Regions from separate parts of the Homo sapiens genome. Here region 1 is linked to region 2. Evidence: fine-mapped QTL for protein levels in blood plasma. A gene starts in region 2. The other region holds a variant in brackets. All regions are shown on one strand. Distances are from middle to middle.

Region 1 (10,749 bases), 64 kb before region 2:
TTTGAAAGTAAGTAGCAGACACTTCAAGCTTAAATACTTCAACATGCAGCTCCTAATAATAAAATTATCCTACAAAGCCAAAATACCATTATCTTTTTTTTTTTTTTTTTTTAAGACAGAGTCTCATTCTGACATCCAGGCTGGAGTGCAGTGGCACCATCTTGGCTCACTGCAACCTCTGCCTTCTGAGTTTAAGTAATTCTTCTGCCTCAGTCTCCCAAGCAGCTGGGACTACAGGTGCACGCTACCACACCGAGCTATTTTTAATAGAGATGGGGTTTGCCATGTTGGCCAGGCTGGTCTCGAATTCCTGGCCTCAAGTGATTTGCCTGCCTCGGCCTCCCAAAGTGCTGGGATTACAGGAGTGAGCCACCTCGCCCAGCCCAAAATACCATTGTCACATCTATGAAAATTAACCTTAATCCAATAATATCATCTAACAAACAGTTTACATTTACATCTCTCTATAGCTCCCCAATATTTTTTTCTCATTTTCTCCTCACCTGTCATCCAGAATACAATGAAGTTTCATGCATGGAATTTGGTTATTCTATTTCTTTAGTCTCTTTCAATCTTAGGAGCATGCTGTGTCCAATACAGGAGCCAGTAGCCATGTGTGGTTATTTACATTTAAATTATATAAAATCAGCTGGGCTTGGTGGCTCCTGCCTGCAATCTCAGCTACTCAGGGAGGCTGAGGCAGGAGGATGGCTTGAGGTCAGGAGTTCGAGACCAGCCTGGGCAACATAGCGAGATCCCATCTCTAAACAAATTTTTTAAAGTAATTAATTAAAATAAATAAATGTAAAGACCAGCTCATCTGTTGCCTAGCCACACTTCAAGTGCTTAGCAGCCATATTTGGCTAGCAGTTACTATATTGAACAGCACAGACATAAACTAGTTTCATCATCACAGAAAGGTCTGTTGGACAGTACTGTCTATAACAATCCCTTGCCCTTTTTTTTTTGACTTTCTTTTTAGAGTCCATGCCAGTTGTCTTACAGGAAGTCGCATATCCTGGATTGTCTGTTTATTGCCTCAAGATTTGATTTAAGAAACATTTTGGGCAAGAGCCCCACACAGAGGATGTGGTGTGCATCTTAGTATGTTGCTGATGTCAGGTAGCTATTAGTGATGCCTACACTATGAATTCAATGAACACTTGTTGAAGAAATGATCTGGTGCCAGGCAATCTCCTAAGGACTTGGGAGCTTGACTTCAAATAGGAGAGAGACAGCTTATATAATCTCCAGAGCCTCCAACATTGTCCTAGGAGCAGAGTGGAAAAATGCTTTGTAACATGAAGGGAAGACTGAAGTGACATAGCAAATGGCCCAGCAGCAGCACAGAGGAGAGGGACAGACCCAGAGAAGGGTGAGGTCAAGAGGCTACAGCTGTTCCTCAGCCCCAACCCCCAGACTCACTTCGATGATCATAACTTTTTGGCTGTTGCTTTGGGGAGGGGCAGGCAGCTTGGTGAAATGCCTGTGACCCAGCTAAGCATTCAGCTGGAAGACTTCGCAGCAAGGTGCCCAAGGAAACCCTCAGGACAGAGAGGCTGGCAAGTTCAAAGGGCAGCCTGCCAGTCATTCCTCTGCTGGCCCGTGCCAAGGGTCTAGGCCAGATTTGGGCCTGGGAGTATCTAGGGAAAACATCAAACTATAGTTTTCACTGCCTTGGTTGTCACATTTGCCTCCTTCTGTGGCTACCCTCCTTCCACCCCAAATAAAGGCCAGGGAAAGAAGACAGGAAAAAAGTGAAAACTAAAGAGAAAATTTTGCTTCAAAGAACTGGTTGTGTGGTTCCCAACTGTCCATATGGCACAGGAAAGTCTCATCTGTGAAACAAAATAAAGTTCCCTTCCAACACAGACATGACTGTTCTAATTTCCTATGTTATTTCAACTCTCTAGGAGGTGAGAAAAGCAGAAATTATTGCACCCATAGGCCATCCTTAGTTATCCACTGATAACCTGCCCCTCCTTGCCAAGAACTTGGAAGTAGCATTGTCCTCCTACCCCTCTCAAAGATAAACTGTGAAATCCACATGTAATGAGAGGTGCCCAGGCAGGAGGTGACATTGACCCAAGGTATAAACACACCTAAAGAAGGAATGCACTGATCCAAAGAAAGGTCTCAGAGGCAAAGAAAGGAGACTCTGAAAGAATTCTGGCTTCACTTCTTTGGGCTCTGTCTGGCAGAGGGACCAGAGTCTTACAAGAATATCTGGCCCTCTGTCAGGTATCCCTATTGTGCAGACTCATGCAGCCAAATATAACAAGGCCTGGCGCCTGCTGGACTTTTGCGTTTTAAAACTAACTTCTCTATTAGGATTCCTGACTTTCCAGGTACTTTCTGATCATCTGCCTTCCCTTGTGGCTTGCTTCCAGGAGTGAATGTGCTGGTCAGGCTGACGTGTCCGTCCAGTCCACTGACCAGCTGGCATCTGGTCTTATGCACAGGCCTCTGGGGGTGTGTGGGTCTGGCAGCCTCCTTGAGTGGGATGACATCTGAATGGGACTAGGTTTCTGAGCCTCTGAGGATGCAGCTGGACTCAGGGTCATAGTTGGCTTAGCTTAGCCATGTCATAGCCTTCGCCCAGTGGAAGCCTAGCTGTGAAACAGGCTGGTCCTCCTCACTGCTCAGCGTTGTCCAGCTTCAGCTGCACCCATGTCACAGATGGATAAAACCCAGCATCGGCTGGGCTTGGTGGCTCACGCCTGTAATCCCAACACTTTGAGAGGCCGAGGCGGGCGGATCACCTGAGGTCGGGAGTTCGAGACCAGCCTGACCAACGTGGAGAAACCCCGTCTCTACTAAAAATACAAAAAAATTAGCCAGGTGTGGTGGCGAATGCCTGTAATCCCAGCTACTCAGGAGGCTGAGGCAGGAGAATCGCTTGAACTTGGGAGGTGGAGGTTGCAGTAAGTCGAAATCGCACTATTGCACTCCAGCCTGGGCGACAGAGCAAGACTCCATCTCAAAAAAAAACAAAAAACAAAAACCAAAAACGAAACAAAAAAAACCTCACAAAAAAACCCAGCATCGCTCCAGGGCTATCCACTTCTTCATTCCCCAGTTCCTTCATATTATTACCACCACTAATTCAACCCACATTTTATCATCATCATCATAAAAGCTTCTATTTGTCGAATCTTCTGTGTGCCTAACAACCCCACAGAGAGGGCATTATTGTTCCATTTTGGGGACCAAAAGAGGCTAATTATGGCCACGAGCTGAGAGAGCTGGGATCCAAATCTATTACTATGTCTGTCTACCTCTAATTACAACTATTTTTAAAAATTAAGCTGGGTGTGGGGATGAGGGAGGTTTCCCAGAAGAGTACAGCATCCTTAGCATGTTTTCTGAGTTTCCTCATTCCAAAGGTGGAAAACAGGACCCCTACTTACTGAAGTAAAAAAAAAAAAAAAAAAAAGAATCTGCCCTGATTGGCGAAGGCAGCCTGGCAGTTGTGTCTGGTTGGAGAAGCAGGAGAAATTCTAGGTAAGCCCTGGGTCATCTCAGAGGATTCTGGCAGCCAGCTGTGACCCTGATACAGAAAAAAGATAACCTAGATGTTAAGCTAAGCGAGAGATATAGAATGTAGAAGCATGAGCAGAAGCATGAGTGGGCACATGATGGACTATTCTGGCTCCACAGGATGGGAGTTATGAGGGCGAGAGATCAGTGGCCTTGTTCTTGGCTTGGACGTGGGTCCCCTAAGAGCACTTCCGGCCATGGTGACATCTTTCCCCGCTACCTTCTTGAGCCTGTGTCGAAGGGTGGTTTGGTGTGTGGCCTGCCAATCAGGAGACTGTAGTTAATATTCCGTCTTTGACACCTGGGGCAGGTCTTAAAGTTAACCTCTTAAAGCTTTAGTCTCCCTTTCCATGGACTTCGAATTCCTAAAAACCACATACTTTATTTCTGAGTAATTTGTGAAGTAGTTAACAATTTAGGTAATATGATTGAAAGTTATGCGCATGACAGCCTGTGGCCGAGTAAAAGACAGATAAACATGTGGGTGTCCCAAGAAGGCCGCAATTTGGGGCTCTTCTAATGCAATGTTCTCTATACAATTGTTCAACATTTTTTTCACTTAACATTTGAATATAATACAAAATATTTATGTTCAAAACAAGGACTGTATATCACATAAATATGACTGAATAGGACATAACTTTTTTTTTTTTTTTTTGAGATGGAGTCTCTCTCTGTCACCCAGGCTGGAGTGCAGTGGCACGATCTCGGTTTGCTGCAAGCTCTGCCTCCCGGGTTCACGCCATTCTCCTGCCTCAGCCTCCCGAGTAGCTGGGACTACAGGAACCCACCACCACACCCGGCTAATTTTTTTATTTTTTATTTTTAGTGGAGACGGGGTTTCAGTGTGTTAACCAGGATGGTCTTGATCTCCTGACCTCGTGATCCGCCCGCCTCGGCCTCCCAAAGTGCTGGGAATACAGGCGTGAGCCACCGCGCCTGGCCAGGACAGAACATTTAAACTTATTTGGATGTGTTTTTCATTTAACTTAAAAAAATCACCAATGACTAGATAATATTAGTCATTCATACTTAACTAAACATAAATATGACTGTAAAGTCTTTGAAATTATTTTTAAACATTCTTTTTTGGTTGGCCAAGCTGTCTTCACTTTTCTGCAATTTCTTTTTCTTTCTTGAGTTATTAAGATTTTTGTGTTTTTGAAAAGAGAGTCTCACCAAATTGCCCAGACTAGACTTGAACTCCTGAGCTCAACTGATCCTCCGGCCTCAGCCTCCTGGGTAGCTGGGACTATAAGCTCATACCACCATGCCTGGCTGTAGAGTTTTTTTTTTGTTTTGTTTCTAATCATTCAAGCCAGACATTTTCATGGGTGCCATATTAAAATATTTCATATTTAGATAATGTAATAAAAATACAGTACAGTAAACAGCATTATACTATGCATTATTCGGTTTCTGAAGTTTAGCTAAAGGAGACAACTAAGTTCAGGAGACTGTCAGCTGACTGACCTCTGAATTGGTAGTGCTGCCTGTAATTATGTTATAAAAATACCATCAGAGATAGGCTGGCGCCTTGGAGCCATGACTTTAAATGTCCATTGGAAGATACTATTTCAGTAAACAATTAACGTTTTGCAGTCATGTATAGTGTCTCATAAGCAAAACTGAGATAACAGGCACCCATTTTTCTGATCGTTTTAGCAATGTTTTATATTCCTTATAAAGGGGCACCATGGCCAGCCATTTCATCTGGCTCCAGGCATAGAAGGCACGCACTGGGCTAAGAAACCTGGGTGTGAATATATGACCTGGGGCAAGACATTTAACTTTTCTCTGAGCCTCAGTTTTTCTCTTGCAAAATGGCAATAATATCTATCTCATAGCGTTATTAGAGAAAACATTGATGTTACAAATGAGTCTATCACTTAAAAGTATATGTATAGTATACTATATAGTGAAACACTATATAAATAATAATTAACAAGCAATTATCCTCTTTCCATTAACCTTTACTAGCCTTATAAACATTGCTTTGAAGAGTTAGTACTGGAGCACAGGCTGTGATAAAAGGCAGATTTTTGAGACTGGCAAATGTTCTGCACCCAGTATCTGCTCAATACTTTTGTGACATATCCCATGGGGGCATGTCCTGGGTGGGCAGTGGTTCCCGACACAGGCTTTGTAGTCAGAGATACCTCAGTGGGGCTGTGCTCTGACTCTGCCTTTCTGTATCTGCCATCTCAGAAAAACTGCTTTGTCACAAATACGTGCGTCTCATAAGGTTGTGCTATCAACGTCTGCGCTCCCAACTCCAGTCATACAGAGCTATTTGCAGTTCCCAAAAGCATCAGGCTTACTTCCTTGCTCAGCTCCTGGTTCCCTCTGCAGGACGGCTCTTTCTCCTATTTTCTGCTAGGCTAACTCCTATTCTTCTCAGCTTCCTCCAGGATGTCCCTGACTCCCAAGCCTTGATCAGGTGCCCTTTTCATTGGCCCGCTCCCTTATCCACCCTGAATTTATCCCATGGCCAGCGTACTGACATGACCTAGTCACTGGCCTTCGTCCCTCCCACACTGTAGTATTGATTAGGATTTTTGGGTTTAGTATATACCAGGCACGGAGCTTAGTGCTTTGTTTATTATCTCACTGAGGTCTCATAATGATCCTATGAAATAAGTATTAGTACTGATGAGGAAACTGAAGCTCAGAAAGGGTGAATGATTTGCCCAGGGTTATACAAATACAGGCAGAAGAGCTGGGATTTGAACCAAGGCCCATCTGACTCCAAACCCTTTGCAGTCAGTCTATTATAAGTTTCTAAGGGCTTAAAGGTGAACGGTGAAGACACACAGGAAATACTCAACAAATAAGAGCCGTCATTATTTTGACCCAGATTGTAAGCCTCGGTAGGGAGGGAATCTTAACCCATAAATGCTTGGACCCATAGCACAATCCCCCAACAGAGGCTGAGTTAACACATGGAGACCAGAGTACAACCTCCTCGAGAGCAAGGACCCTGCATCTAGCTTCTTGAGTGTGTCCCCGTGCACCAGTTTCTCAATAAATGCCTGTTGTTTTTTCTTTTTTTTTTTTTTTTGAGGCAGAGTTTTGCTCTTGTCACCCAGACTGGAGTGCAATGGCATGATGTCAGCTCACTGCAACCTCCACCTCCTGGGTTCAAGTGATCCTCTTGCCTCAGCCTCCCAAGTAGCTGGGATTACAGGCGCCCGCCACCACGCCCAGCTAATTTTTGTAGAGACGGGGTTTCACCATGTTGGCCAAGATGGTCTCGAACTCCTGACCTCAGGTGATCCACCCCTCTCAGCCTCCCAAAGTGCTGGGATTACAGGCATGAGCCGCTGTGTCTGGCGATGCTGTATTTTCTATCACACAATCTCTGCATTTTAGAGATGTTTCCTTTTTTTTTTTGAGATGGAGTCTCGTTCTGTTGCCAGGCTGGAGTGCAGTGGTGCAATCTTGGTTCACTGCAACCTCTGCCTCCTGGGCTCAAGTGGTTCTCCTGCCTCAGCCTCCTGAGTAGCTGGGACTACAGGCACCCGCCACCACACCTGACTAATTTTTGTATTTTTAGTAGAGACGGGGTTTCATCATGTTGACCAGGATTGTCTCCATCTCTTGAGCTTGTGATCCGCCCGCCTCGGCCTCCCAAAGTGCTGGGATTACAGGCGTGAGTCACCGCAGCCGGCCGAGATGTTTCATTTCTTGTCACACTTTGGCCCCTTTCTACTCCTAATTGAGGAGAGGGTAAGGCCTACAGAGGGGCCCAAGACAACAGTTGAAGCTGCTTTTTGATGAGACATACAGGAAACACCAACCATCTAAATAAACGTCCTCTTTATTTTACCAAATATAATTTATCAGTTAAGTTGACATTTGTCAATTCAGTTATAGTAACTATAAATAATTCTCTTAAGACACAGTTCTGTAACTTTTTAAGGATACGAGAGTAAACCAATATTGCTCCTTGCAGCCAGGCCAAAAGTACATGCAGTTGGTACAATCGGGGAAAAGAAATGAAACTTCCATGAAAGTCACCTTCATTTTCTTTCCCTCTCACCCTACAGTCCTCCTCTGCTCACTCAGGGCCTGGGGCATGCCTATCTGTCTGCTTTTTAGGCAAAGGAGGTCACTCCAGAGTCTTCTGGGACTGCCTGGCCAAATTCCAGAGATGAGGAAGGGGCGAGTGACTGGGGTAGGGGTGGCTGGAGACCACAGGGACACAGCCTTAGGGGCAGAGGAGTTGGTTTTGATGCCTGTACAAGAAGAATCTGTGTGTAAGTATTTTTTGAGGTGGAGGAAAAGATGAAAAAAGTCCAGAGGGAGGAGGAAAAACAAGCCCAGGCTGGTGTTAATGAATTCTGTTGGACACAACTCCAACTAGAAAACCTCTAAAATTCCTTCCAATTCTACGGTTCTATGATTCCAGAAGGAGGCCTGGAGGTCTGGGTAGAAATGGAGGGAGAGAAAATATGGTCTCTGGAGGTCTAGGGCAGGTTCCTGGGATAAGGTGCAGTGTTGGTAGAAACAGGATCATTGCCTAAGCCTTCCCTTGGAGGTGGGCCCTTGAGGCTACAGATGGAAGGGTTTCTGTAGAAGCTTCTGAGAGAGAAGTTAGAAAAAGCCTACATCCAAATCCCCAGATCTGTACACGTGTGACTGCGGATGGAGGCTCCAGTTTTCTCCCAATTTTGTGCTAGGCAGAGAAAAGTAGAAACAACCAGATGATGTCCACCCTGCTAGTTCTAAATCCTCTTTTGGGTGCTTGGTAAGGAGAGGTGGAGGGAAGGGAATGTGAGGAAGGGTCGTTTAGGGAAATAAATACTGGTTGAGCAATGGGGCGGTGGCTCTAGCTGTGGTCAGCACTGCACAGAGTAGGGGTCTGGAAAGGAGAAAGAGGCAGAAGAATCTGGCTTGAAGTAGATGCAAATACTTACAACGAGGAAACTTTCTCTGCCAGATTCAAAGGGGCACATGGCCTTTGTAACCTGGAGAATGAGGTGAGGTTAGAGCTGTGTTTCCCTTACCACTGGCTTATCAGTGCCTGGCACAGTACCTAACACATAGTAGGCACTCAATAAATATTGCTCAAAGAATGTTTCAGACCATGCTTGTCTGCAGGAGAGCTCATCTTGCGGAGGCTGCATATTTGCTAAATGAACGAATAAATGATTGGTGAATGTTTGTGGGTAGAAGCCAAGAAAGAGGAAAACTGACCTCTATGGCATGACAGAACGAGTAATTTTAGGAAGTGACAGGGTCCAAGGTGACCAAGTGATTATGTCCTCAGGAGAAATGGCAGCAATGAGACACCTGTGGTTGTCCTCAACCTCCAAACCATTCTCCACATACCCATGACCTGACCCTAATCTCAAAACCCAACCTGGCAAGCTCTGGGGAAGGTAGTGCTTAGAGACAATTTGAGATGAAGGTTGAAGAGAGACAAAGAATCTGGGCCCAGGGAGACAAAGTCAT[T/C]TGGGCCCAGGGAGAATGTGGATTTTGGGGAACCAATAGGTGGACATGGGTCAACAGGGAGAAGAGTGCACTGTTCCATTTTTTCCTGGATATGACAATCAACTGGAAATGATCAGAGGGAGGGGTTGTTGATGTTGACCAGGCCATTGAACAAGAGGCATGTGCACAAATTGAAAAGTCAGTCCACCTTACTCTTTCTGCGAGTGGGAACGCTTAGGTCCAGAGGGCAAGAGAACAGAACTGGGATCACAGGGGCCTGGAGCAGGTGTCTCCTGTCCAGAGCTTTGAAGTTGGTCCACTTCTACAAAAGTATGTCTGTGTTTGGGAGTGTTACTTATTCTTCTGTCCCTCTGTTCAACCAAAACCAAAAATAAAACAAAACAGATAAAAAGAAAACAAAACCAAAAATCCAGAGCCCACTTACAAAGGGTTTCTCATTAGGGCCAAGACAGGTTGCTAAAGCCAAACCCCATGTCCCCAGATTCCAGACAAAACTCCCCTGCTCCAGTCCACATCACCTGGAGGCACCCACCATGAAACTGCACTTGGTGATTGTCTCAAAAACCTACTTGTACTGCTTATCTCAGGCCATCTGTGTTTCCCAAATTCTTGCTATACAAACTTGGCTCAATGTATAAAAATTCCCATTGAAAATAATGAGAATTTGGTATCAAAGTGAAGTCCTAGAAAGAGGTGGGAGTGTGGGGTGGAGGAGGGACAGGGGAACAAAAGAAAAATTTCAAATAGAAAGTGCAGAGGGATGGGGAAAATGTTGAGTGACCAAGCTAGTCCCCGACATCCGTGTCTCGGTCCCCTATGAGCCAGAGAACATGGAAGCTGAGTGCTAGGAGCCCAGTGCCAAGCAGGTCCCCCAGAGCAGTCAAGTATGGGATGGAGAAGTTGTCCGGGTCCAGGCCCCGGCCCCACATCCAGTGCACCATCCAGTCTGCGATGTACAGGAGAATCAGCACCTGGGGAGACAAAAGGGCCCAGCCTATAGCCATCCTCTCTCTCCAGGGGGAGCCAGAGGCCACATGATCAGACCCATTCAGTGCATCACAGGGCTTGGCTGGCCATAATCCTTACTTTTTAATCTTCCTCTTTCCACCCCAGCAACCTCTCTGTGTTTCTCCACCCCACAATTACCACTTTGAGCAGACAACAGGCACAATAAGAGCTCTTTAGAAAGGAAGATGCTGCTACGACCCAGGGTCACCCACATCAGCATTATATTCTGCTCCCAAGTTTACCAAACAAGGAGCTTCCTGACCTAAATCCTACTTGTTGCAGAAACTCAGCCCTCTTGCCTCTAACTCTGGGTCACCTCATTCTGGGGTCACTCCAATTCCTGCCATGTTGGCCTTTCCAGGAGCATGGCAGGGGGCTGGCTGCTGGAGTCAGCTTTTCCTAAAGGGATGTCTTCTCTCGGCAGAGTGGTATAAGGATAGTGTTTGAAGCTGCTGCTGGCGGTTGTCTTAAGTAACAGATGATCATCCCAAGCTGGCTTCCTCCTGACCCTTTTCATTCTGTTGTTGTGGCTTTTCATTCCATTCTTTTCCATTGTTTGGGCTCAAAGAATGCAAGTTTATTTTAACATTAGTCCTAATAAAGTTGAATTGTGAATAAGTCACCTCAATATTAATATAAAGCAGACAATGCATACCAATTCAAAATACATTTGACATGATCTGTGGCTTTGATTTTATCTGTGTTCTTGCTTACCTTCTATTAATACAGATAATTAAGAATGAC
Region 2 (10,950 bases):
CCAACCCAGAGAATGGGGGCACCTCCCAGCCTTCTTCAGGGGCAGGCACCACATCAAAGTGAGCCATCAGCAGGTAGGGCTGCAAGCTGGGGTCCGAGCCTTGGATAGTGAACAGGTGGCTATACTCTTCCACGACTTCATGCTGGATAAAGCTGGTGCTGACCACTGTAGGAAAGACTAGAAGCAAAAAGGGCAGGAAGAGAGAACCAGGGTTAACAGTTTCCTTAGGTTTTCCTACCAAGTTGTGCTTCCTGTTCCTTTATTTATTTATTTTTTTAAACATGCATCCTCCTTTAGGAAGCCTTCTAGGACAAAGCTAGTCTGATTCCTGATCTACCTGGACAATCTTTGAAATTCGTCTTCCCCATATTTCAATGTGCTATTACTATGTAATAAATGCAAATCAAGAGCCACCATTAAGGCCAGGCTTGGGGGCTCATGCCTGTAATCCCAGCACTTTGGGAGGCCGAGGCAGGTGGATCACCTGAGGTCAGGAGTTCCAGACCGGCCTGGCCAACATGGCGAAACCCTGTCTCTACTAAAAATACAAAAATCAGTGAGGTGTGGTGGCTCATGCCTGTAATCCCTGCTACTCAGGAGGCTGAGACAGGAGAATCGCTTGAACCTGGGAGGCAGAGTTTGCAGTGAGCTGAGGTTCCGCCATTGCACTCCAGCGTGGGTGACAAGAGCAAAACTCCATCTCAAAAAAAAAAAAAAAAGACTCGGCCAGGCGTGGTGGCTCATGCCTGTAACCCAGCACTTTGGGAGGCTGAGGCGGGCAGATCACTTGAGGTCAGGTGTTCGAAACCAGCCTGGCCCACATGGTGAAACCCCGTCTCTACTAAAAATACAAAAAACAGCTGGGCGTGGTGGCACGTACTTGTAATCCCAGCAACTTGGAAGGCTGAGGCAGGAGAACTGCTTGAACTCAGGAGGTGGAGGTTGCAGTGAGCCGAGATCACACCACTGCACTCCAGCCTGGCTGACACAGCAAGACTCCAACTCAAAAAAAAAAGACTCACTATTAAGATGGTCAATATCTCAAGCTCAGGCTTGGTCAGACCTATAACATGCTATCACAAGTACGTGTTAAAGGGCTATGCAGATGAGGGATGCATTAAATTTTGACCATAGGAGGCCGCATTAACCAAATTATATTAAATTATTATATTAAATTAGTAGGCCTCATTAACCAAATTATATTTAAATATTATATTAAAAAGTTCAGAGACATTTTTCTTTTTAAAAAGCCACACATCTAGTGTATGTGTTATGTGAACATAAAGATTATTCTGTTTAGCACAAGGTCGTACTTCTGCGTGCAGGTGTAGATGTTCCTAGGGTCAATTATTCAAGCGACCTTAGCTACATAGGAGAAATAAATTTTATCTCTCTCTGGGTTTTTTGGAAGAATTCACATAAACTTCTGTGGATACCCGAAAACCGAAGAAGACTATGGTTTTATCTTGTCACCTAGCTTATCCAGTTTACTGTCACTATACATTTCCTTTCCTATGTTTGTCTCCTATTTAGTAAAGACTTGCAGCCTTTTCAGCCTGGCCTCAGCTTGGCTACTGGGCATTAATCCCTGAGCCACTCATTTTTGTTTTTTCCTTCCTTCCTTTCTTTTTTTTTTTTTTTTTTTTTTTTTTTCAGAGACAAGGTCTTGCTCTCTCACTTACACTCGAGCACAGTGGCACATTCATAGCTTACTGCAGCCTTGAATTCCTGGAATCCAGCAACCCTCCCACCTCAGCCTCCTGTAACTAGGACTACAGGTGCTCGCCACCATGCATGGCTAATCCCAGAGCCATTTGTCCCAGGGTGTTAGAGAGGGGGCTGCTTGCTGCTCCTAGGCCACCTTCTCCCACCTCTGACAACTTTGGAGGGGTTGTTTTTAATTAGATTTAGGAAGGTAATCTCATCACTCTCCATGAGATTTTCATAAGGGGAGGGAGGAGTTCCAAGAATCCTTTTTTCCTCTGACCCATCCTTCCTCAGCTCTGTACTCAATGGGTGGTAGGGATGAGGGAAAAAGACTGATGTTATAGCTCAAAGTTGTTGACTGCCTAGAGGCCTAGAAATGTGTTAGTAATGAATCTGGGGTAGGCCTGAGTACGTGGAGTGTATATGTACCGGTGTGTTTGGGTGTGTAAGGAGGTAGGGGTGGGAGGAGCATGGAACATAGTTCTGGGCAGTTGCACAAGTAGAAGGAAATCCTAGTTCTACTTTTTGATGATTTAACATTTATTGAATGACACACATGTAGGGCAAAATTTGAGAGAGTTTGTACTCTAATGCAATGGCTGGATGAACTCTCAATCTTTGCCCTACATATGGTGGCTTAGTTTTTCCAAGAGCAAATCTACAGTCTCTACTCTGCCTATGGGAATTAGATTGTCCTCTGATCAGTCGCAAAATAAACTTCTTTATCACTTTGTAAAAGAACTGTGTCTCCATTGCTATTTCTACCACCCACCCCTTGCCCCTGATTTGCAGCTGACCTTTATGAATGTATTTTCCGAACTCAGCCAGGGCTGTAGTATTGGACTTCTCAGAGCTAAAAGTCACTGTTGGAATCTGGATGGCACCTGTCAGAGTCAAATAGAGATGAAAGATTGAAAATGAATTAGTCATTGTTTTTTTCTACAGTCCTCTGTGCACAAAAAGTTCTTTTGCCTTCATTATCATATTGCAGAGGGCAAAACACTAATGTGAGGTAGGCGCTATTGTTTCCTCTAATTCGAAGATGAGGGAAAATGCTTGGAGAGGTTAGGTGAGCTGTCTGAGCAACAGGCAGACTATAGATTTAAACCTATGTCTTCTGGGTTTGTTTAGGCTGATATGGTTCTTAAAGGCAAATACAGTCTAAGATTGGAGGGAAGTGGATTTTTGGATCCTGGTCTTGAAGGGAAGCTACTATAAATTGCTTCCTAAGGCCTCACTACCTCTGAAATCACCAATTGCTTTGATGAATCCAAGCTTCATCATTCTCAAGGCACCCACTGTCCTGGGTCCCTACATCAATGAGGCTTGTGTGTTTTTGTATGTAAAGGCTTATTCCTTATGCAGAGTCTCACTAGTCTGTCAACCAAGACCAGCTTTTTGGGCATATAATGCCTGGGAAGGGGTGGATTTAGAAGCCTCCAAACAAACTCCTCAGTCCTAAAATAATCTCACCCTCCTTACTCAGTTGTCTCAGTTCCTGAACCTTCACTGGGCTCATCCCTTTGAGTCTTTAAGACTTTACAGTTTTAAAGAGTTCCATGATCAAAGACAAAACCACTGGGAGGGAAAGCATGAATCATGAGAATATTGAATTAGACTGCTCTCCAAGAACACAGTGCAAACAAATTCACCTGAGGCAGGAAGGGTCTCTGAAAGACAAACTTCATCAGTTTTGCTAAGGATCAACCCTACAATAGCATAGCCCACCAGATAGATGGGGAAGCCGAGGTTCAGAAAGATTCAAGTGCCTACTCAAGGGCAGACCCAAGGATCTGATCTCAGGTGTTCTGTCCCCTGCTCAGAGTTCCAAGCTGTGTTGCTATGAGGTCCCTATTCTAGCTTATGTAGCTTTTGTTCTCTTCTGTGCAGACTGTGAGTGGCTGTCTAATGCCTTTTAGAGAATTATTTATGCTTTGGGAAAGCCCTGCTCTGCCTCCCAGGCTTGTCACTCTAGCATATGAACAATCTATATCCAACTATTGGGGTTAGCTTTTGGTCCCTGCATCTGCTTCTATATGTTTATGCAGGCAGTCTCTCTTAATCCATTACTTAATGAAAGGGAAAAGACTGGAGCTAAGCTGAATGGTAAAGAAGGATTTCATCCCATAGGATCTAGCACTCAACAGAAACTTTCCTGTTTCCTGGAAAATGCAGATTCAGAACAGGGATGAATTTTTGGTCTGGATTAGAGATCTAGAGGAGACATGTTCTTCAATTATGATTGAGAATTAGGAACATCCCACACCCCGGGAACACTCCACTCCCTTTCTTTAGAGCCATCTGATCCCAGCGAGTCCGACAGGCACTAGATGCTGTCACCCACTGCCCACTCTTTGCTGTGGGGCCCTGGGGAAGATCATTTAGCTGACCTAAGCCTCAATTTCTCTCCTTTGTAGATAAGACTAATATCATTTGTCTTATTTTACGACACCGCAGTAATTTATCAGGCATGCAAACTTTCAAAGGTTAAAATTGATGTACAAATGAAAGCTGGTGTAATACTCGAGGCAAGCAGGGGAAAGAATGGACGGTGGTCACGCCAAGAGGGGTGAAGTTGGAGCTTCCAGGTTAGGCAGGGCACACCAGAGTTCCAGGAGCCAGGTATGGGGGAAGTGTGGCGTCCCCAGACAGGGGCACGATGTGCTGGGAAGGGTGTTGGGGCCGGGCTGGGGTGCGTGTCGGGGCTCCAGCTGCAGTAGCAGATGCTTTGCGGCGGAAGCGGGGAGTCACGGGTTGACCTGGGGAGGGAGGGACCCACATATGAGCATAGGTGGGTGAAGGGGACCCGGGTTCACCTTTCAGCGCCTCTTTCATCGCGACGCGTTCCTCTTTGCTGAACTGAGAAGGGATTCGCGACGCCCTTTGATGCTCCCCGCTCCTCGGGCCCATCGATCTGGAGACGGTAGGGAAAACTAGGAGCAGCATAGCCACCAGGGCCAGCACGCAAACGCACCGCTGAGCCATGCTTCTCTCGAGCTCCTGCTGTCAGGCTACCGGGGTAGTTCTGACCTAAACGCCCAGACTAGCGTTTCTTGGCCCTAGCTCTGCTCTTATTCCGGCAAACAGCCTTAGCCACACCCCATATCCAGATCTGACCAATCATCGCTTCGCTAGGACAGCGGAACAACCAATTGACAGAATGACCCCGCCCAGGATCCTTAAGGCCTTTCGAGGGTTGTGGGTTTTCGTGCTGAGGCCAGCAGTTCCTGCAGAGCAGAGGTGAGGTCGGGCTCCAGGCTAGAGTCATGTCTGGTCCGCACTTGATCTCTCACCCATAAATCCTTTCCTGTATGACAACAAATCAAATAAAGGAGGAAAAGCAAAATAAAATGCACGAAGCTTATCAGACCATACTCTGCTGCTCGTTTTTTCCGAAGCTTAGAACCTGACTACAATTCCCTAGATCCTGGGGCGGGGGAGCTCTCTAGGTTCCCAGCTTGATTTCATCTGAAATTGGAACAAATTGCTCTGTTTATAGATACTGCTTTGAAATACCAGCTCAGAGGGTTGGCTCCTGTTTAGAAATTTCATTGAAAGTGCTTTTAATATTAATGTTAACACTACATTTTTGCAACTCTAGACAAGTACAGTAAGACTGAAGGATTTTTAGAAAGATTACTATAAAATATTTAAGAGAATTTTGATGTATAAATAATTTTGATGTATTCCACAAGTGAAATTTTATGGTTATTCAGAGTAGAGGATCATTCTGGAAAAAAGAAAACCTGTCTTATGTCACAGAAATATAAAATCAGATTTCCTGAAGCCAGAATAAATCGTTCCTTTCAGATTTCTTGATGCAATTTTATCTGGCATCACTCTCAAATTTTAGAATTCTCAAGAAAAATTCAGTAAGTGCTATACAACCAGTAAGGCCATATTGCTACCTGTGACCAAAGCTACAGGTTCACAGTCCTGGTGTTTGCATTTCATTTAAGATTTGCTTAAAAAAAAAAATTCAGCCATGTAGTTACTTTTCTTTTCTTTTCTTTTTTTTTCTCTCTCGGTGCCCAGGCTGGAGTGCAATGGGGCGATCTCGGCTCACCGCAACCTCCGCCTCCCAGTTTCAAGCAATTCTCTGGCCTCAGCCTCCCAAGTAGCTGGGATTACAGGCATGCACCACCATGCCTGGCTAATTTTGTATTTTTAGTAGAGATGGGGTTTCTCCATGTTGGTCAGGCTGGTCTCGAACTCCCGACCTCAGGTGATCTGCCCACCTCGACCTCCCAAAGTGCTGGGATTACAGGCGTGAGCCACCACACCCTGCCTAGTTACTTTTTAATAGCAACTTTAAAACAGTATCATGAAATACTTCACATATTATAAAGATATAAAAAATAACATAATGAACATTTCTGGATTCACCACCTAGTTTAAGATTTAGAATGTTAAAAATAGAGTTGAAATTTAAACATGAACATTGACATAATTTTTAGTAAAAAGTAGCTTAATCTCTACCTAACTTTAAAATTTTTTTAAAAGAGACTTTTTATTTTATATATTTATTATTTTTTAAAATTATTATTATTTTTGTAGAGATAGGGTTTCACTATTTTGTCCAGGCTGCTCTTGAACTCCTGGACTCAAGCAACCCTCCCATTTAAGCCTCCCAAAGTGCTAGTATTACAGGAATGAGCCACCACACCCAGCACAATTTTTATGATTGTAAAATTCATGTATATTTATGCCCTTGTGAAATATTTGGAACATTAAGTATAAAGAAAAAAATCACATGCTATCCCAATATCCAGAGACGTTCACTCATCATATTTTGATGTTATCCAATCTTTTTTCTCTGCACACAAATACCCACAAATGAAGGATGTCCCTGTTTTAAAATGAAACAGATGCATATACTGCATCCAAAGTTCTATGTTCTGCTTTTTTTCCTTTAACATTATGTCATAAACACTTCCTGGTCCTTAAATATTCTTTAAATTATCTTATCACATAATATTTGATAATTAAGAGTACGTACAACGTGTATGTAAAGTAAATAATAACATGAACACCCGTGATTTGGAGTTTAGACCTAACTGGTCAAACTGCATTTTTTCTCCTGTCACTGCTCCAATTCTTGCAATCTGTCTAATTCCCACACTGTTCCCAGATCTAGCCAATCATGGAAAATTATCAGTAGCATTGAAGGTGCATGTGTTCTATTGCCTTTATTTTCCAACTCCCTGCCCAAGGTAATTGTATGACCGTGTTGTGTGTTTTAAATAGTTCTACAACATATGTATGATATACATATATGTATAGTGTGTGTGTGTGTGTATATCTTATAAAAATGACATCATGTTGTGTGTAGTCTTCTGCAATTTGCTCTTTTTACCCAACACTGTTTGTGGGATTTATGCATGCTGTTATATCTTGCTACAGTCTATTGACATTATTGTACATGTCTCCTGGGCCACAGGTAAAAGAGATTCTCTGGAATATATATCTAGGAGTGAAAATGCTGTGTTGTACTGTATGTTCTATTTTACAAGAGAAGGCTGAATTATTTTCCAAAGTGATTGGAACAATTTATACTAATCAGCAAGGTAGTGCATAGTATATAAGTTCCTGTTGCTTCACTTTCTCACTAGCTCTTGGCATTGGCATTTCCAATATCTTCATTTTGCCCATTTAGTGCCTGGAAAATATCTCCTTGTGGTATTATTTTGTACTCTCTAGTTTGTTAAAGAGTTTAAGCTTTATTTATTTATTTATTTATTTATTTATCATAGGGTCTTGCTCTGTCACCCAGGCTGGAGTTCAGTGGCACAAGTATAGCTCACTGCAGCCTCCAACTCCTGAGCTCAAAGAATCCTCTTGCCGCAGCCTTCTGAGTAGTTAAGATTGCAAGTGAACACCAACACCTTCAGCTAATTTTTAGAAGTTTTTTTATAGAGACAGTGTCTCTCTATGTTGCCCAGACTGGTCTTGAACTCCTGGCCTCAAATGATCCTCCTGCCTTGGTCTCCCAAAGTGCTGAGATGACAGGCTGAACCACCATGCCTGGCCTAAACATCTTTAAATATGCTTATTTGCCATTCATGTTTCTCTGGTAAAATGACTGTTCATATCTATTGCCCATTTTTGTTTAGAGCTGTCTTCTTATTGAATTTTAAGGGTTTCTATATATTGTGGAGTCTAAAATTTTGTCAGTTTTATTTAAATTATAAATATTTCTCTTCATTTGTGTCTTGTGTTTTTATTTTTTTAATGGCCTTTTGATGGGTTGAAGTCTTAATAATATAGTTGAATTTATTATTATATTCTTTTATAATTAGTGATGTTTTCTTGCTTAAAAAATCTTAACAAATCTAGTCCAAGGTCATAAATATATATATATATATGAATTTTTAGTAAAAAATAGCTTAATCTCTACCAAACTTTAAAAATTTTTAAAAAGATACTTTTTATTTTATGTATTTATTATTTTTAAATTTATTATTATTTTTGTAGAGATAGGGTCTCACTATTTTGCCCAGGCTGCTCTTGAACTCCTGGACTCAAGCTTTTTCCCTTATCTTCGAATTAGAGAAAACAATAGTGCCTACCTCATATTAGTGTTTTGCCCTCTGCAATACGATAATGAAGGCAAAAGAACTTTTTGTGCACAGAGGACTGTAGAAAAAAAAATGATTAATTCATGTTCAGTCTTTCATCTCTGACCATTTGACTCTGACAGGTGCCATCCAGATTCCAACAGTGACTTTTAGCTCTGAGAAGTCCAATACTACAGCCCTGGCTGAGTTCGGAAAATACATTCATAAAGGTCAGCTGCAAATCAGGGGCAAGGGGTGGGTGGTAGAAATAGCAATGGAGACACAGTTCTTTTACAAAGTGATAAAGAAGTTTATTTTGTGACTGATCAGAGGACAATCTAATTCCCATGGGCAGAGTAGAGACTGTAGATTTGCTCTTGGAAAAACTAAGCCACCATATGTAGGGCAACGATTGAGAGTTCATCCAGCCATTGCATTAGAGTATAAACTCTCTCAAACTTTGCCCTACATATGTGTCATTCAATAAATGTTAAATCATCAAAAAGTAGAACTAGGATTTCCTTCTACTTGTGCAACTGCCCAGAACTATGTTCCATGCTCCTCCCACCCCTACCTCCTTACACACCCAAACACACCGGTACATATACACTCCACGTACTCAGGCCTACCCCAGATTCATTACTAACACATTTCTAGGCCTCTAGGCAGTCAACAACTTTGAGCTATAACATCAGTCTTTTTCCCTCATCCCTACCACCCATTGAGTACAGAGCTGAGGAAGGATGGGTCAGAGGAAAAAAGGATTCTTGGAACTCCTCCCTCCCCTTATGAAAATCTCATGGAGAGTGATGAGATTACCTTCCTAAATCTAATTAAAAACAACCCCTCCAAAGTTGTCAGAGGTGGGAGAAGGTGGCCTAGGAGCAGCAAGCAGCCCCCTCTCTAACACCCTGGGACAAATGGCTCTGGGATTAGCCATGCATGGTGGCGAGCACCTGTAGTCCTAGTTACAGGAGGCTGAGGTGGGAGGGTTGCTGGATTCCAGGAATTCAAGGCTGCAGTAAGCTATGAATGTGCCACTGTGCTCAAGCGTAAGTGAGAGAGCAAGACCTTGTCTCTGGAAAAAAAAAAAAAAAAAAAAAAAAGAAAGGAAGGAAGGAAAAAACAAAAATGAGTGGCTCAGGGATTAATGCCCAGTAGCCAAGCTGAGGCCAGGCTGAAAAGGCTGGAAGTCTTTACTAAATAGGAGACAAACATAGGAAAGGAAATGTATAGTGACAGTAAACTAGATAAGCTAAGTGACAAGATAAAACCATATTCTTCTTCAGTTTTTGGGTATCCACAGAATTATATGTGAATTCTTCCAAAAAGCCCAGAGACAGATAAAATTTATTTCTCCTATGTAGCTAAGGTCACTTGAATAATTGACCCTGGGAACATCTACACCTGCATGCAGAAGCACCTTGTGCTAAACAGAATAATCTGTGTTCACATAACACATACACTAGATGTGTGGCTTTTTAAAAAGAAAAATGTCTCTGAACTTTTTAATATAATATTTAAATATAATTTGGTTAATGAGGCCTACTAATTTAATATAATAATTTAATATAATTTGGTTAATGAGGCCTCCTATGGTCAAAATTTAATGCATCCCTCATCTGCATAGCCCTTTAACACATACTTGTGATAGCATGTTATAGGTCTGACCAAGCCTGAGCTTGAGATATTGACCATCTTAGTAGTGAGTCTTTTTTTTTTGAGATTGAGTTTTGCTCTTTTCACCCACGCTGGAGTGCAATGAACTTAAACTATACCCTAGAACAAATGGACTTAACTGATATTTACAGACTATTCTACCTAACAATTCAGAATATACATTTTTTTCATCAGCACATGGAACATTCTCCAAGATAGACCATTTGATCGGCCACAAAACAAATCTCAATAAATTTAAGAAAATCAAAATTATATCAAGTACTCTCTCAGACTACAGTGGAATAAAATTGGAAATTAACTCTAAAAGGAACCCTCAAGACTATACAAATATGTGGAAATTAAATAATCTGCTCCTGAATGATCTTTGGATCAACAATGAAATAAAAATGGAAATTAAAAAATTCTTTGAACTGAATGATAATAGTGACAGAACATGTTAAAACCTCTGGGATACAGCAAAAGTGGTGCTAAGACGACATTTCATAGCATTAAATGCCTACATCAAAAAGTCTGAAAGAACACAAATAGAGAACCTAAGATCACACCTCAAGGAACTAGAGAAACAAGAACAAACCAAACCCAAAACCAGCAGAAGAAAATAAATAACAAAAGTCAGAGCAGAACTAAATGAAATTGAAACAAACAAACAAAAAACAATACAAAAGATAAATGAAGCAAAAAGATGGTTCTTTGAAAAGATAAAAAAAATTGATAGACCATTAGTGAGATTAACCAAGAACAGAGAGAAGATCCAAATAAGCTCAATTAGAAATGAAACAGAAGATATTACAACTGATACCATAGAAATACAAAAGATCATTTAAGGCTACTATGAACACCTTTATGCACACAAACTAGAAAATCTAGAGGAGATGGATAAATTCCTGGGAATATGCAACCCTACTAGATTAAATCAGGAAGAAATAGAAACTCTGAACAAACCAATAACAAGTAGTGAGATTGAAATGGTAATTAAAAAATTGCCAACAAAATAAAGCCCAGGATC

Which allele goes with the higher level. Positions count from the first base shown, and alleles are read on the strand shown. Strength reflects both the effect of a copy and how common the allele is.
In carriers of allele C in region 1, the plasma level of the protein whose gene starts at base 4,752 in region 2 tends to be lower than with T alone (strong association).

Evidence for each region. PIP is the chance, under the fine-mapping model, that this variant and not a neighbour inherited with it causes the effect. Protein levels are from antibody-based Olink assays in UK Biobank. Linkage for the fine-mapping came from a reference panel and not from the study's own genotypes, which makes the PIPs less certain.
Region 1: its variant is fine-mapped to the plasma level of the PM20D1 protein (UK Biobank, PIP above 0.99).

Annotation. Positions count from the first base shown.
Region 1 is chr1:205,781,751-205,792,499 of GRCh38, forward strand. It overlaps SLC41A1 (solute carrier family 41 member 1), which reads right to left. Exons shown (of 11, transcript NM_173854.6): 11 at 7,345-9,968. The coding sequence ends at 9,783. Among named protein-coding and RNA genes, the nearest start is that of RAB29, 12 kb to the left of the region's middle. RefSeq lists an enhancer at 9,882-9,941. The variant T/C (reference allele first, on the strand shown) is at 8,998.
Region 2 is chr1:205,845,381-205,856,330 of GRCh38, forward strand. It overlaps PM20D1 (peptidase M20 domain containing 1), which reads right to left and starts at 4,752. Exons shown (of 13, transcript NM_152491.5): 1 at 4,524-4,752; 2 at 2,505-2,591; 3 at 1-177. The coding sequence starts at 4,692. LOC107985250 (a long non-coding RNA gene) reads left to right here and starts at 9,375. Exons shown (of 2, transcript XR_001738417.2): 1 at 9,375-10,950. RefSeq lists an enhancer at 4,681-4,975.